Linked DNA regions of Homo sapiens: region 1 is linked to region 2. The links come from fine-mapping of genetic effects on gene expression. A gene starts in region 2. The other region holds a variant in brackets. All regions are shown on one strand. Distances are between the middles of the regions. Region 1 overlaps TFDP1 (transcription factor Dp-1). Region 2 holds the start of GRK1 (G protein-coupled receptor kinase 1).

What was found. PIP is the estimated chance that this variant, and not a neighbour inherited with it, causes the effect.
Region 1: its variant is the best candidate, but not a certain one, in a credible set for the expression of GRK1 in lung (TOPMed, PIP 0.82).

Annotation. Positions count from the first base shown.
Region 1 is chr13:113,599,317-113,604,676 of GRCh38, forward strand. All of the region lies in intron 2 of TFDP1 (transcription factor Dp-1), which reads left to right. Among named protein-coding and RNA genes, the nearest start is that of TFDP1, 17 kb to the left of the region's middle. The variant G/GT (reference allele first, on the strand shown) is at 3,152.
Region 2 is chr13:113,664,987-113,670,346 of GRCh38, forward strand. It overlaps GRK1 (G protein-coupled receptor kinase 1), which reads left to right and starts at 2,233. Exons shown (of 7, transcript NM_002929.3): 1 at 2,233-3,099; 2 at 4,701-4,828. The coding sequence starts at 2,401.

The DNA.
Region 1 (5,360 bases), 66 kb before region 2:
TTAAGTAGTTATTAAATATTCTGACATGTGTCTCTCAGAGATAGTCATTCACTCTTATTGTCACATAGGCAGCATTTACATTTCTCAAGTTGTCTCAAATTTGGAAAGTTTGTTTGCATTGGAGCCTCGCCCCCTCCAGGCTGCTGGAGTCTGGTCTCGCTGATGCGCCCTCACGTACTCCACCCTGTTGATGGGCTGCCCTGGCTGAATGTTCATCCTTCGAAACCCTCAAAGGTGTTGGGTGTTGGGGCCTTTGGGAGTGACTAGAATTGAGTGAGGGCACGCGGGTGTAGTCCCCCCTGCCCTGTTGGATCAGTGTCCTGATAGCCAGTCCCCACGGCGAGCCTGCCCTTTTCCCACCTTGCGAGGCCCAAGGAGGAGGTAGTAGGTGCAGCCTGGAAGCTGGCTCTGCCCTGACCTCCCGCTTCCACATCCAGGACCGTGAGAGAGAATCCTTGCACTTAGGGCTCCAGGACTACGAGAGAGAACCCAGGACCGTGAGAGAGAACCCAGGACCATGAGAAAGAACCCAGGACCGTGAAAGAGAACCCTTGTGCTTAGGGCTTCAGGACTGCCAGAGAGAATCCTTGTATGTAGGGCTCCAGAACCGTGAGAGAGAACCCAGGACTGTGATAAAGAATCCTTGCACGTAGGGCTCCAGGACCATGAGAGAGAGCCCAGGACCGTGAGAGAGAATCCTTGTATGTAGGGCTCCAGAACCGTGAGAGAGAACCCAGGACTGTGAGAGAGAATCCTTGCACGTAGGGCTCCAGGACCATGAGAGAGAACCCAGGACCGTGAGAGAGAATCCTTGTATGTAGGGCTCCAGAGCCGTGAGAGAGAACCCAGGACCGTGAGAGAGAATCCTTGCACGTAGGGCTCCAGGACCGTGAGAGAGAACCCTCGTGCTTAGGGCTCCAGGACCATGAGAGAGAACCCTCACACATAGGGCTCCAGGACCGCGATAGAGAACTCAGGACCGTGAGAGAGAACCCTTGCACGTAGGGCTCCAGGACCATGAGAGAGAACCCTCACACATAGGGCTCCAGGACCGCGATAGAGAACCCAGGACCGTAAGCGAGAATCCTTGCACTTAGGGCTCCAGGACTGTGAGAGAGAACCCTTGCACATAGGGCTCCAGGACTGCAAGAGAGAACCCAGAACCATGAGAGAGAATCCTTGTACGTAGGGCTCCAGGACCATGAGACAGAACCCTCACGTGGGGATCCAGGACCGCGATAGAGAACTCAGGACTGCAAGAGAGAACCCAGGACCCAGGACCGTGAGAGAGAATCCTCGCACGTGGGGCTCCAGGACCATAAGAGAGAACCCTTACACGTAGAGCTCCAGGACCGTGATAGAGAACTCAGGATGGTGAGAGAGAATCCTTGCATGTAGGGCTCCAGGACCATGAGAGAGAACCCTCACGTAGGGCTCCAGGACCGCGATAGAGAACCCAGGACCGTGAGAGAGAATCCTTGCACGTAGGGCTACAGGACCGTGAGAGACAACCCTCACACGTAGAACTCCAGGACCGTGATAGAGAACTCAGGACTGCAAGAGAGAACCCAGGACCCAGAACCGTGAGAGAGAATCCTCGCACGTGGGGCTCCAGGACCATGAGACAGAAGCCTTGCACGTAGGGCTCCAGGACCACGAGAGAGAACCCTCCTGCTCTTCCCACTTGATGCTTTTGCTCACTCGGAGCGTGTTTGTGAGATGAGCCTTCACGCTGTCCTGGATCTTCTCCAGATGCGAGGTTCTTTTCTGCTGCATCCCTCCTCTGTGGTGGCACCATCTCCTCTTGCCTGAGGTGGGGAGGTGTTGGCCTCCGTAGCTGAGAAGGGCTGGGCCTGGCGGTCACCCAGCGTCTCCTGCCTGGACTTAGCAACTTGAACCAGCAGCGTCTGTCACCTCCTAGTGCCTGTTAGGAGCCCAGGTCCCCGTTCAGCCTGTCCCGGGCGGCCCTGGCCTGTGGTGCCCTGAGTTGGTCTGGGCAGGACCACTTTCAAATTAACTCACCCGGCTGCTGGTGGGATCCCGCTCCTTGTGGGCTGTTGGTGGGGGTGTGTTCTTGCACTTTGCCTTGTGGGCCCCTGCGTAGGGCAGCTCGCTGGTGGCTTCCTCAGGGTGAGCCAGCAAGGTCAGAGTCGGTCTCTTGAGGCCACCCTCACCCTCACCAGGCTCTGGTGCTTGGTGGGAGCAGGGCAGGGCAGCCCACTTGGGGGCCCCTGCAGGGCCAGGGCACTGGAAGGGATGGCTAGGGCCACCGGAGGTCGTCCCTGAGCTCTGGGGTTGTGTTTGTTCCCAGGTGTGCTCTCCAGGGTCCAGGAGGACTCGTGGGAGCTCGAGGCTGGGGTCCCAGGCCCGGCCCCAGAGGAAGGGCCTGTGGCCAGGTGCGCGGAAGGTGCTGGCTATTTGTGGTGGGCAACCCAACAGCCAAAAGGGAGGAGCAGAGAGAGTTCTCCGCAGGAGTTGATGGGGGAGCAGACAGAGTTACCCGCAGGAGTTGAGGGAGGAGCGGATGGAGTTACCTGCAGGAGTCGAGGGAGGAGCGGAGAGAGCTACTCCCTCTGTAGCTCTGAGAGGAGGACAGAGCTACTCCCTCTGTAGCTCTGAGAGGAGGACAGAGCTACTCCCTCTGTAGCCCTGTAGCGGACAGAGGAGGGACGGAGCTACCCGCAGGAGTCGAGGGAGGAGCGGACAGAGTTACCTGAAGGAGTTCAGGGAGGAGTGGATGGAGTTACCCACAGCAGTCGAGGGAGAAGCGGATGGAGTTACCCGCAGGAGTCGAGGGAGGAGTGGACAGAGTTACCCGCAGGAGTTGAGGGAGGAGTGGACGGAGTTACCCACAGGAGTCGAGGGAGGAGTGGACGGAGTTACCCGCAGGAGCTGAGGGAGGAGCGGACGGAGTTACCTGCAGGAGTCGAGGGAGGAGTGGACTGAGTTACCTGCAGGAGTCGAGGGAGGAGTGGACAGAGTTACCCGCAGGAGTTGAGGGAGGAGTGGATGGAGTTACCTGCAGGAGTCGAGAGGGGAGCGGATGGAGTTCTCCGCACGAGTCAAAGGAGGAGCGGAGAGAGTTCTGTGCAGGAGTCCCGTGCTGGGGCCAGGAGGGTCCTGGTAGCAGGCGGGGCCCATCCCAGCTGCT[G/GT]TTTATAGAGTGGCCTCTTCCCCAGGTCTCTTCATTCATTATGCAGTTTAATGTGCAGTGCAAGTGTTTTCTGCCCTGGGGTCTGGCGCAGGCCACTCCAGTCCTCAGGGGGATCCCTCAGTGCAGCTGGGTCACTTTCTTCTCAGCTCTGCTTACTTTTGAAATTAAGATTGTTCCTTGACACTTTTATGGCTGTTGCGTAGGCAGAGTTGAGTGGCTGTGACAGAGACTGGGTGACCCTCAAGCCTGAATCATTTGCAGGGTCCCCCCTGAGAAGTGTGCGGCCCTGGCGTCCCTCTCTCCAGCCCTGCCCTGGGCCTGGCTTGTGAACCTGTGATGTCGGGACTGCAGGGCCCCTGCTGGGCCGTTTTCTTACCAGGCAAAATTCCTGCTTCACAGAGTTGATGCCAGGGGTGTCAAATCTTTTGTTTTCCCTGGGCCACATTGGAAGAAGAATTGTCTTGGGCCACATAAAATAGAATAACACTAACAATAGTTGAGCTAAAAAAAAAAAAAAAACGTATAATTTACAAATTTGTGTTGGGCTGCATGCAGAGGTGTCCTGGACCACATGCAGCCTGCAGGACACAGGTCGGATAAGCCTGGTTTATACTCTAGTGGGGAGCTGTTAGCAATGGAAATGGTCAGTTGTTCAGTAGATTAGAAAGTGCAGAGAAGAGCAGGGCAGAGAAGGGTGAGACAGCGTGGGGTCCAGGTGTATGCCCCACCTGGCTGCTGTGTGTTGCTTGCTGACCCCCTCATGGGCCTTCGAGTGTAAGGGAGAGTCCTCTTCATGCCCTCGCACCCTCCTGGGTCTCTAGGGCTTGTGTGTCCCCAGGGGAGGAGCCCCCTGGACACACCCTGGCGGGTGCTGGCTGGCAAAGAGGGAGGCGTTGAGGGCCCGGGCAGCGCCTCCATCCTGGCCAGGCAAGTGCAGCTTCAGGTTGTGAGAACCGTGGTCACCTGTGTGTTTTAAAGATGACGGCAGTGATAGGTCCCCTTTTGGGCCTGGCATGGAAATTAGTCACATTCGTAGACCCTGTCACAGAGTGGGCACTGGTGATGTCATCTTTTATAGTTCTTATTTTCAATTGATTCAGCTTTTTCTAGCAGCATGGCGTGTTTTACGAACGTGTGTTTTGCTGTTACTGCTGCTACTCATAGTATGGTTTTGTCTAATGTAAGACAGAAGAGAATAATCTACTGTTATCTCCATGAAGTACAAACACAAATACAGTTGAATATAGTTTTTCTAATAGAAATTAAGGTTAGTTTTAGCCAAGGAGCACCTTTGCTGTTGGCTTATATGTTAATGTGTTTAGCACCTTGAGGTGTCCTTACTGGCAGGTAGGGTTGCATCTTGAGTGTAAAGATTTAACAGGAAAATAAGTCCAGTGCACATGTCTTAAAATTAATAGCAATTTCAGCAATATGTTAAAAACACGAAGCTAGGCCAGGCGTGGTAGCTTACACCTGCTTGAGCCCAGGAGTTCGAGACCAGCCTGGGCAGCGTAATGAGACCTCGTCTCTACTACAAATAAAAAAAAATTAGCCAGGCATGGGGTGCATGCCTGTCCCAGCTACTTTGGAGGCTGAGGTGAAAGGATGGCTTGAACCGGGAAGGTCAAGGCTGCAGTGAGCTGAGATCTTACCACTGCACCCTAGCATGGGTGACAGAGTAACAGCCTGTCTCAAAAAAAAAAAAAAAAAAGGCAAATTAAACTATTTGTGTTTTGGTGGTGCTTGTTACTGAGTTCCTGTGGGTCACAGCCCACAAGAAATGCAAGGAGGACCCACATGAGGGTCTTTCCTACAGCTCCTTACATGCTCAAGCTGGTAATTGTGGTCTAGTAGTAGCTACTGAATATCAACCCATAAGAATGACTTCATATTAAAAAACCACAGAGGCTATAATTGGGTCTGTCTTAGTAAGTTCTAAAGTGTCAGTAGAGACCCAGACTCACACCCACACTCCTAAGGGCAGGACACAGGGGAGGCTGTGGCCTTGGATCCTGTGTGGCTGAAATGGGGTTGCCTATTCAGGTGCTGAGTTTGAGATGGGAGCTGGCCCCTGGCCTGGAGAGTGGGGACTTGTGCCGAGGCCACTTTGCTGTTGCCCAGCAGGCCAGCGTGCACCCCTTGCGCATCCTGTTGACACGAGCACTGAGCGGACAGACCTCGGCTGTCCTGTTAACAGGTCCCACTTAGC
Region 2 (5,360 bases):
CACCTGCCAAAGCCCTCAGGAGACCGTGGGGACGTCGGCTCGGTCTGCGGGCCCTCGCTTCGGCCTCTGTAGACCCTGCCAGGTGCAGCCCCCAGTGCCCTCCCACAGTTGCCTCTTCTCCCACGTGGAATGGGGTGGGCTGACAGTCTCCACCTCTCTATGCTCCGGCATTCTTCCTTTCTGCGACCCTTTGCTTCCTCCCTGTGTGAGCTGGAACCAATCCCCTGCTGAATTCCTCCTCATTCTTCTCCAAACCTTTATTGAGTACCTACTGTGTGCTGGAATAAGACAGGCAGGGCCATGCCCTCATGAAGCTGACAATCCTATTGGTGTGACCATCCCCAGGTGTGTCCCAGGTGTGTTGCAGGTGTGTCCGAGGTATGCCCCAGCTGTCCCAGGTGTGCCCCAGCTGTCTCAGATGTGCCCCAGCTGTCCCAGGTGTGTCACAGCTGCATTGCAGGTGTGCCCCAGTTGCATTCCATGTGTGCTCCAAGTGTGTACCAGCTGTCCCAGGTGTGTCTCAGGTGTGCCCCAGCTGTATCCCAGGTGTGCCTCAGCTGTCTTAGGTGTGTCTCAGGTGCATCCCAGGTGTGTCTCAGATGTGCCCCAGCTGTCCCAGGTGTGCCCCAGCTGTCCCAGGTGTGCCCCAGCTGTCTCCAGTGTGTCCCAGCTGTGCCCCAGGTGTGTGTCCTAGGTGTGCCTCAGCTGTCTCAGGTGTGCCCCAGGCATATCCCAGGTGTGCCCCAGCTGTCCCAGGTGTGTCCTACGTGTGCACCAGCTGTATCCCAGGTGTGCCCCAGGTGTGTCTCAGATGGGTCCCAAGTGTTCCCCAACTGCATTTCAGGTGTCTCAGGTGTGCCCAAGCTGTCCCAGGTGTGTCCAAGATGTGCCCCAGGTGTGTCTCAGGTGGGTCTCAAGTGCCCCAGCTGCATTTCAGGTGTCTCAGGTGTGCCCCCCAGTGCATCCCAGGTGTGTCCCAGGTGTGCCCCAGGTGCATCCCAGGTGTGTCCCAGGTGTGCCCCAGCTGTCTCAGGTGTCTCAGGTGTGCCCCAGGCATATCCCAGGTGTGCCTCAGCTCTCCCAGGTGTGTCCTACATGTGCACCAGCTGTATCTCAGGTGTGTCTCAGGTGTGCCCCAGATGTGCCCCCGGTGTGTCTCAGGTGGGTCCCAAGTGTTCCCCAGCTGCATTTCAAGTGTCTCAGGTGTGCCCCAGGTGTGCCCCCGCTGTCCCAGGTGTGTCCAAGATGTACCCCAGGTGTGTCCCAGCTGTCCCAAGTGTGTCTCAGGTGTGCCCCAGGTGTGTTCCAGGTGTTCCCCAGCTGTCCCAGCTGTCCCAGGTCTCAGGTGTGCCCCAGGTGTGTTCCAGGTGTTCACCAGCTGTCCCAGCTGTCCCAGGTCTCAGGTGTGCCCCAGGTATGTTGCAGGTGTTCCCCAGCTGTCCCAGCTGTCCCAGGTGTGTCCCAGGTGTTCCCCAGGTGTGTCCCAGCTGTCCCAGGTGTGTCCCAGATGTGCCCCAGGTGTACCCCAGGTGTTTCTCAGGTGGATTCCAGGTGTGTCCCAGGTGAGCCCCAGCTGTATTCCATATGCGTCCCTCTGAGTGGGGCCTTGGTTTGATGTAGCTCCGGGGATCTTCTGCTCCCTGGTCCTGGTGTCACCAGCAACTGCCTCTTGACAATCCTGCCTTGCCTGCAAACCCCAGGTGAGAAGAAGACAAATGACTGGGAACTGACCCCTCAGTAAGCGCTGGTGGTCTCACCTACAGACCCCCAGGAAGCTGGTCACTGTGGGCTTCTTTTCCTCTCTAAATTCCTATTATCAGGTGGTTTTCTTTCTCATTTGCTATTTTCTTAAAAATAAAAATAGGGAAAAACAGCCTTTGTAAATTACGGTTTCTTCCGGCTCCATCCTCTCCGTCAGGCCCACATCCCAAGGAAACAGCAGGCTTGAGCCTGGCTGCTGAAGCCAGGGGCTGGATGGAGCAGCTCAGAACAGAGCTTTGAGTGCCTCTCCAGCCAGGGGCCCCAGAAGCCTGGTGGTTGTTTGTCCTTCTCAGGGGAAAAGTGAGGCGGCCCCTTGGAGGAAGGGGCCGGGCAGAATGATCTAATCGGATTCCAAGCAGCTCAGGGGATTGTCTTTTTCTAGCACCTTCTTGCCACTCCTAAGCGTCCTCCGTGACCCCGGCTGGGATTTAGCCTGGTGCTGTGTCAGCCCCGGGCTCCCAGGGGCTTCCCAGTGGTCCCCAGGAACCCTCGACAGGGCCAGGGCGTCTCTCTCGTCCAGCAAGGGCAGGGACGGGCCACAGGCCAAGGGCAGCAGTCAGGCCTGCTCTGTCTGTGAACGCTCCCGGCTTGGCCTCGGCTGATGGGCCCTCACGCCTGAAGCGGGCAGGAAGCTCCGGGATGGATTTCGGGTCTTTGGAGACCGTGGTGGCCAACTCTGCCTTCATCGCCGCCCGAGGCAGCTTTGACGGCAGCAGCTCCCAACCCTCCCGGGACAAGAAGTACCTGGCCAAGCTCAAGCTGCCCCCGCTGTCCAAGTGTGAGTCCCTCCGCGACAGCCTCAGCCTGGAGTTTGAGAGTGTGTGCTTGGAGCAGCCCATCGGCAAGAAGCTCTTTCAGCAGTTCCTACAATCGGCAGAGAAGCACCTGCCGGCCCTGGAGCTCTGGAAAGACATCGAGGACTATGACACGGCAGACAATGACCTCCAGCCACAGAAGGCCCAGACCATCCTGGCCCAGTACCTGGACCCCCAGGCCAAACTCTTCTGCAGCTTCCTGGATGAGGGGATAGTGGCGAAGTTTAAGGAGGGGCCTGTGGAGATCCAGGACGGGCTCTTCCAGCCCCTGCTGCAGGCCACCCTGGCACACCTGGGCCAAGCCCCCTTCCAGGAGTACCTGGGCAGCCTGTACTTCCTGAGGTTCCTGCAGTGGAAGTGGCTGGAAGCCCAGCCCATGGGGGAGGACTGGTTCCTGGACTTCAGGGTCCTAGGGAAAGGGGGCTTCGGGGAGGTGTCGGCCTGCCAGATGAAGGCGACCGGCAAGCTGTATGCCTGCAAGAAGCTGAACAAGAAGCGGCTGAAGAAGAGGAAGGGCTACCAGGTGAGCAGCGCGACCCGGCCAGCAGGGATGGGGTGGCAGGGTGCAGGGATGGGGCGGCAGGGTGCAGAGGGCCCCCAGGTCACTGTCGGCTCCGGGGCCCTTAACAGCTGGTGCCTAAGGGAGCATGCATGCCAGCCTCGCCACGTGGGCGCCCCGCGGCCGTGCGGTTACGAGCAGTTCCAGTCCATGTGCAGAAGTCCCTCCTCGGAGAGTGACCTCCACATTTTTGGGTGGGGACGTGCCACGTTCACTCGTCGGTTTTTCACCAACCACAGACTAGCCTCAAGTGTGGGGGAAAGAGGACCTCTCAGGGGAGGCTGAAGAGGGGCAGGGTCTCCGGATTCTTTGCCATGACTGTGGAAGACTTTCCAGGGCCCTGGCTCCTCTGATCGCAGCGAATGCAGGAGGAACTGAGGCAGGACGGAGGCAGCCTCGCTCTGATGACAGTTTCTGTGAGGCAGAGCCTGGCGTGACGCCGGGGGCAGGAACTGTTCCCCTGAGTGTGCTGTCCTCGGGGGTGGGAGTGAGCGACGGGCACGCAGGCCGCTCTAAGTTTCATCCGCTCTGCCCACTGGCGTCAGACTGTGCATCTGGGGCAGGATCAGCAGAAGCTGCTTACAGGTCTTAAGGGTGAGGGGCAGCGGCTGTGCCGGGTGTGGACGTGATCTCCTGAGCCAGCCCCCTGCACTTTGACTCCACGTGGCTCCTGGCCCCTCTCCCACCACGCAGCTGTGTTGAGTGCACAGGAAGCTCTTAGGGTTAAGCAGCAGCCACTGTGCACCCTGGCTCTGCGGAACCTCAACCCTCAGTGAAGGTGAAATACCAGGTGCTCACAGCGCTGGGCGGAGGCCCTGGAACATCTGCGTGTTCTCGCCGTGGAACTCGGGGCGAGTAACTATGCTGTGTGGTTGTAGCAGTAATTTTTAAAAATTAGCTTTCTTGACATCTAATTCCCCCACCGTGCCATTCACATCTAACTGTAAATTTAACCCAACATTCAGCCTCTTTTCCTGACTTCCGTCACCAAACTGAACTCCATACTGACATCAACTGAACACCTCCCCATGTAAGTGCAGAAAGGGGCCTCCGACATCAGGAATTCCCTCTTCAAAGAGGGATGTGCTATCCTTATCCAGACACTTACAAACTCGTTCAATGGAGCATTGTGAGGTTTCAAAATAAAGACAAAATGAAGCAGAGTGGTGAGGGGGTTTGGGAGGTGCTGGTCTGGGAGCCCAGCCCACGGGGGCCTGGACAGGAGGGAGGGCTGTGGCTGCAGGATTGCTGGGCAGGCGGGGCTGGCAGGGTCCTCACCCATGTTGCTCAGCCTTGGGGCTTGAGCCTCCCCTTGCCAGAGGCTGGCCCAGAAGACCAGAAGTCCCCTGTATGTGAAGGAATTCACATGTCTGGTTTTCTGAAATGGGGGTGCAGGCATGTTTTGAAGTCATTTGCAATTGCTTTGTGAAAGGCGCATTTAAAGCATGTTTGCGACTGCTCCGTGGCTGTGTGCAGTGGGCGTGGCCGGGTGCACACGGTCTCTGCGATGCACCTAGTCCCTTTCCTATTCAAAGCCAGTGCGTACTCAGCGTCTCACTTTTCAGGGTGCTATGGTGGAGAAGAAGATTCTGATGAAAGTACACAGCAGGTTCATCGTGTCTCTGGCCTATGCGTTTGAAACCAAAGCCGACCTCTGTCTGGTGATGACCATCATGAACGGAGGTGACATCAGGTAAGGGCTGGGCCAGAGGGCACGAGGGGGCCCCGCTGTCCCACTGGGTCAGGGTTTCCAGGGCCCGGGCTCCTTTCCACAGGCAGAGCCATGGTGGCCCCAGGCCTGCCCTCGAGGGAAGCCTTGCACCCATCACAATCCCCTTCTCGCTGTTGGTTCCTGAAACAATGCACCCTGGACCCACATCGGAGCAGGAGCCTGGGAGGCGCCCAACCTGACAATCAGGGCTCGTCCTGTGTGTGGTCTTGGTGTGGGTGTGGGAGGCACGTGGTGCTGTGGGGGACGTGTGATGCAGTCGGCGGGGCCTCTGCAGGGCTGAGGGCCTTGCACCAGGAGGGTAAATGAAGACGAACTTCACCAGCGCCCACTCCTAGGGCTGACCCTAGAGCTGGAGACAAGATCAGTCCAGCTGGGGGCCGTGATCTTGCTGTCCCCAGGCAGAGAGGAGGTGGCGCTGCCTCCACAAAGTCCTGCCCCGGATCTGCCGCTGAGACAGGCCCCAGGCCCGTGCTGGGGATCAGATCACAGGCTC